Linked DNA regions of Homo sapiens: region 2 is reported to be linked to region 1. Evidence: microRNA targets listed by miRTarBase, many of them from high-throughput screens and not tested one by one. Region 1 holds a microRNA gene; the other region holds the end of a gene's coding sequence.
What was found. Region 1 holds the annotated microRNA hsa-miR-4794 (UCUGGCUAUCUCACGAGACUGU, at 1,111-1,132, shown strand). A microRNA usually pairs through its seed, bases 2 to 8, with sites in the 3' UTR of a target mRNA and lowers its output. Matches are read on the target gene's strand: a 7mer-m8 pairs with bases 2 to 8, a 7mer-A1 pairs with bases 2 to 7 and ends in A, and an 8mer does both.

Region 2: the mRNA of ZNF44 is a reported target of hsa-miR-4794. Seed matches in the 3' UTR shown: 7mer-m8 at 2,553-2,559.

Annotation. Positions count from the first base shown.
Region 1 is chr1:64,578,745-64,581,902 of GRCh38, forward strand. MIR4794 (microRNA 4794) reads left to right here and starts at 1,103; the gene lies at 1,103-1,179. All of the region lies in intron 2 of CACHD1 (cache domain containing 1), which reads left to right. It overlaps LOC124904195 (a long non-coding RNA gene), which reads left to right. Exons shown (of 2, transcript XR_007066150.1): 2 at 1-1,100.
Region 2 is chr19:12,269,604-12,272,684 of GRCh38, forward strand. ZNF44 (zinc finger protein 44) reads right to left here. Exons shown (of 4, transcript NM_016264.4): 4 at 2,205-3,081. The coding sequence ends at 2,804. Among named protein-coding and RNA genes, the nearest start is that of ZNF44, 24 kb to the right of the region's middle.

The DNA.
Region 1 (3,158 bases):
GTGTCTTGGACTTCTTACAGCTGCGTAGCTGACAGCTACCAAGAGTAAGCGTTCCAAGAGACAGGCATGTCCTTTTATGACCTAGCTTTAGGAGTCACGTAGTATCACTTTCTCTGTACTCCACTAGTAGAAGCCATCATAAGCCTACCCAGATTTAAGCAGTGGGGACAGGGGGACATGTAGACCCCACCTGCCAAAGGGTAGACCTGTTAAAGAATTTGTAGGAAATTTCTATAAAACCACTACACTAGGATTATGGCACCACACTGGGATTATGTTTCCATCTGGGGATAAATTAGGGCCGCTGGCTTCTACCTATAGCAAAGCAGGCCATACAGACTCTTGCAGCTACTTAATCTGCCATTGTAAAATGAAAGCAGCCGTAAACAATATGTAAACAAATGATCATGTTCCAATAAATATTAACAGTAAAATTAGAATTTCATGTAACTACTAAATATTAAAAATATTCTCCTTTAAAAAACATTTAAAAGTGTAAGAATCATTCTTAGCTCATGGCCTATGTAGAAAGAGGCAGTGGACCAGATTGGAATATCTTGAGTTTAGCTAGATCTGACTCTTCAAAGTTAGAATCCTCCAAATGTGTAGAAGAAACCCTTGGGTATTTCTCAAGTGGAATTAAGAGTGTGTGTGTGAGAGAGAAGGACATATGACTACAAATTTTGTTTTTATTTTAAAGTGAATTTGTGAAGATATTTCAAAATTTAGTTCTTTTAATTACATCTTATGTTCATTATGTTACAAAACATTTATTCCCAAGGGCAATAAAGGACTATGCACTTAATACTCCTATGTGGGAAATTAATGATATTTACTTTATCAGAAGTCAGGACCTACAAAGAAAAGGTAGAACTTGCTTCTTGATGGAGCTTCCAGAAATACATATTGTTGTATATTTTAAAAATAAGTATGTTTTAAAAGAGTTGATTATTAGAACAGAAGATAAGGTTGATGACTCTCAGGAATGAATTTTTAAAATCTTTATCACTTCATTAAATATTTTTTCTATGTCTATAATGCCAGGCAGTGTGCTAGAGCCTGAAGATACAGTGGTGAACAAAAACATATATCGTATGTTATCTTTTAACATCTGGCTATCTCACGAGACTGTATGTCCTAACAGTGCTTGTAGTCTCATGAGATAGCCAGATGTTAAAAAAAAAAAACAGCATCAAATTTAATGTGTGTTATGAGATGGCTTATGCAGGGCATTATGAGAATATAAGGTTTTCAAGCTGGGCCTATTGCTCTGACACCCTCTACTGCCCACTGAATGTGAAAGTCTAGGAAAAGAGGGTTGTTAGATTAGTTGCAAGCTGCTGTTTAAAAACCACGTTAACACGTTTGATAATGAGTGAATAGTCCTCTCTCCATATCTAGGCCACGTGTGATGGCCTGTTTAATATTGCTTTGGGGAAGGAAAAACAAAGAATGAAAAAAATTGCAGTTGTTGAAATGTACAGGATTTTTTTTCCCTGATAAGTTATCATTTTGGATGGGTGGAGAATTCAAATAGAAGAACAGTTTGGAACCTATTGACTGAATTACAAATTGGGATAATTTACTGATTTTTCTCTCAATCAAAGTTTTTCTGGGTGACAAAATCATTTGTACAGCAAACCCTAGTAACGTGCAATTTATCCATGTAACAAATGTGCTCATGTACCCCCGAACCTAAAATAAAAATTGGAAAAGAAAAAATAAATTGGTCAGAATCATACCCAAGAATAGCCCTTAAATAAAACATCTGGTTAATAATTATTTGACTGCAATCAGAGGATACTGCTAAAGATTTTTAGAGGACCCCTGAAAGGGTTATATTAATATCCTTAATAAAATGTGAATTTTTTGCTTAAAAAGTGATTTTCCAACACCTGTTAAAAAAGCAATCAATCGAGGTTTCAAGGTTTCTCATCTGGGCCATTAGTGGCATTTGAACCAGATAATTCTTGGTTTTGGGGTGCTGTCCTGTGCATTGTAGGATGTTTAGGAGAATCCCTGGCCTCTATCTATCTACTTTGCAGCATTCTCCACCAAGTTGTGACAATCAAAATTTTCTCCAAATGTCCCCTGAGGGTGGCAAAACCAACAGTTGTCTAAATTAAACTGGGTTTATATGTTTTAATTCAATGACCTCAATGAGGAAAACCTACTTTATTTTAATAGTAAGAAGTCTAGGTCAGGGAGTATTGTGAGTCATTTTGTACATTTCCAAGACCCACAACTCCTCCTTTGAAAATGATAAAATGAATTTGGACAACCCATTATCCAATTAAACATTATACTCATATCCCTTTGTTATGTCTGGAAGTTTTTCTAAACTTTATAGTTTATATAATTTCTAGCAAGGCTGAGAACCTCAGTTATTTAATTGAGACCCTGAAAGCTATAGAATATCCCTGGAACAAAATCAAGATTTAAAATTGGCTTGAAAATAACAAATGAAGATATTTTGATTTGACTCCATGTTCTCAGCCTGGAAGCTATTGGATTGTGTGAGACGCATGACCCAAAGGAGATGATTAGTTTTCCTCCAGTGTGATGATAATGAATAGCACTACAAAACCAATTAGCTATAATTCTATCAGTCATTTCCTTTGGGTAACATTTTGTTTAAAGGGAAGAAAAAACAACACAGTTTTCCTTGGAGATCTTTGATGAAGCTGTGGTATTTGATGGGAACAATGGAGGAAAAAGCAGTATGCTTACCAATTTGCTTTTATTATTCCTGCATGAAAGTAAATCATGATGAAGTGTTCTGTTCACAGCAGTTAAGAAAGACATTTGTTCATCTTAAAGGTGTAGCAGACCAAACACAAGTATATTTCTAAGTGTGCATTTCATTTATATGGATTGTACAACTCCAAGGAATTGCCATTCACATGGAAGACTGAGAATGGTGTCCCCTGGGACTGTGTAGCAGGAGACACTGAATGTTGTTTCCTTTCCTTCTGTTATTATCCCCCTTGAAAAACCGTGAACCCAGAACCACAAGTAACAGATAATGTCTCTCCTCTTTATTCTCCCAGTCATTGTCGTTGCTCTGTAACACACAATGCCCACTGTCATGCTGACAATAATGTCAACAGTCTTTGTTTTCCTTTTTCCAGCAAGGTATTTTATGGATAGGTATTGTT
Region 2 (3,081 bases), not on the chromosome of region 1:
CCTCCCACCTCAGCCTCCCAAAGTGCTGGAATTACAGATGTTGTGTCACCACACCTGGCCAATAGTTATAAATGTTATAACATTTCTTTGATGATGCAAATTTTCTGGAGCACTATACATGAGTTAATTTGGATTGGATTTTCCCAAATTACTTACATTATGGGATTTCTCCCCAATGAGCACTGGGATGAGGAGACTTCAATCCACCAAAGTTGTATATATATATATCCATGGAGGTGATACTTAGGTCATCTCATCAGAAAACACTCATACTTGTCCACAAATAGATGTTGCATATGGCATTAGTACCATCCTCAGAAATTTATATATATTTGCAAGAAATATTATTTTAAGTCAATAGTATATGCTATCATGAATACAGGATATGCTCACTCCATAAGCAGCAAATTGACTCCTTCACAGTTTTAATAGATTTCCAGTTGTTTTGTCTTCAGTCTCCTAAGAAGACAATGCTATAATCTCCAACCACATTATTTGCTTCTTCCATCCCATTCTTCATATTGATCATTGTTGTGTGACATTAGTTGACTACTGTAATGATAAATAACTAGGGTAAAATAGATACATTTGCTCTTTCTTAGGTTCCATTCCTCCTTTCAGTGGGAAGCCTCACACACACTCTCATCATGCTCTGCTATGAAACATAGCTTAACCAAGAATCGTATATCCAGCAAAGCTCATGTTCAATACAAAACAAAAATTTAATTTTTCTGTTATGCTGATGAAAAAGTGTAAGTGATGTTCTTGCCTTCTAACACTGTTATCGCTGCCACAGCCACTTGGTCAAGGATCATCAAGCAGATTAAGGCAATTTACACCCATTTCAACTTTTTTTTTTTCTTCTTGAGACCGAGTCTCACTCTGTCACCCAGACTGGAGTGCAGTGGTAGGATCTTGGCTCACTGCAACCTCTGCCTCCTGGGTTCAAGTGATTCTCCTGCCTCAGCCTTCCAAGTAGCTGGGACTACATGCGCATGACACCAGGCCCAGCTAATTTTTGTATTTTTAGTAGAGATGGGGTTTCACCATGTTGACCAGGCTGGTATCAAACTTTTGACCTCAAGTTGATCCATCTGCCTCAGCCTCCTAAAGTGCTAGGATTACAGGTGTGAACAAGTGTGCCCAGCCCCACCTCAATATTTATACAATTTATGTTGCCTTGATTCTAACCCTGACTGTACCACAGTGTACTTATGGAAGAGCTTCACAATTGCAGATGCAACTGTGCTTACTGCAGAGGCTGTAGATGCCCTAAAGCCCAGGACACCCAAAGCATATTGGAAGCCATTGGAGTGAGGGAGTAAGTGATTTCAGGGGTTTCCCCAAGACTGATACAGCAGTCAGGAATATCTTAAATGTTGCAAAGAAAGTTGGTGGAAAGGAAACTGAAGATATACTGAAATCCTCTACAAGTGATGATGATGATGATGATGATGATGATGATGCTGCTGATGATGCAGAAGATTAAGAAGAGGAGCAGTGCCATTGATTTGGACACGCGAAAAATTTGCAGCAGATCTTGGGGCATCTATAGCCTCTGCAAGTTGCAAGTGTTAAAGATAATCAACCTCAGCTAACATCCTTTGATTGAAAAAAGCTTCTGTGTCATATAAGGGAAAATATGCTAATGAACACTAAGGTTTTTTTAGGGATTCAAAGAAAAAGAACTAGCTTCCTAAAACAATGCTTCTAACTAAATATCTGCAAATATGAAGACATACCCTTCAACACAAACATCTTCAGCCCTCAAGCTGAACAGATGCTGACATTAGTATTAGCCTCCTGCAAAGAGTCAACATCTTCAATCAGAACCTGGGTCTTCCAACATAGATGAAGGTCTTGATGTCCTGTCAAGATTCAAGTTAGCCTGAGGTCTCACTGTTTATCTATGATGCCACACATCTAGTCACCTCTACACATCACATTAGGCACCATACAGCAATCATCATTGTCATAACCATCGTAATACTTGGGTTATCAAGAGAGAAGAACCAGAATTGTGGTTGGTGTTAACACATTCTTTCAGGTCATTAGACAAAAGTAATCTGAGTATTGAAACAAGAAACTGTAACATTATAGGTGATATATACGATGTAGATAGGCCTGCAATGGTTGGGTCTGTACTGAACACATATAGATTTTTTTTCTTATGATTCCCTAAACAATACAACTATGTACACAGCTTTTACAATGCATGAGATATTTTAATTAATCTAGACATTTATAGAGTATACAGGAGAATGTGGGTAGGTACATGCGAATATTCCATTTTATAAAAGAGCTGGCATCTGTGGATTTAGGTATACTCAGGGTGTACTGGAACCAATCTTCTTGCATATAGCAGGCAGCAACTCTATTTGAAAGAAATGGAAACTTTTTTTTTTTTTTTTGAGATGGAGTCTCGCTCTAGCACCCAAGCTGGAGTGCAGTAGTGCAATCTCGGCTCACTGCAACCTCCACCTCCCGGGTTCAAGGGATTCTCCTGCCTCAGCCTCCTGAGTAGCTAGGACTACAGGTGTGAGCAACTATGCCTGGCTATTTTTTTTTTTTTCCGTATTTTTAGTAGAGACAGGGTTTCCCATGTTAGCCAGGCTGGTCTCGATCTCCTGGCCTCGTGATCTGCCCTCCTCGGCCTCTCAAAGTGCTGGGATTACAGGTGTGAGCCGCTGCGCCCAGCCTGGAAACTTCTTAAGGCTTTACCACGTTTACATTCACAGGATTTATTTCTTTCAAGTATCTGAATGTGATAAAACCAATGAATGCTTTCCCACATTCCATACACTTATAGAATATCCTTCCAGTGTGTCCTTTTATGTCTATTAAAGGAACTGAGAGAACTGAAGGCTTTCCCACATTCCTTACATTCATAGGGCTTCTCTCCAGTGTGAGTTCTTTCATGTTCTCGACAGAAACTGGAACGACTGAAGGCTTTACCACAGTGTTTACATTCATAGGGTCTTTCTCCAGTGTGAGTCCTTTCATGTCTTAGAAGGAAAGAGGGCCAAAAGAATGCTTTCCTGCATTGCTTACATTCATATGGCTTCTCTGCCGTGTGAGTCC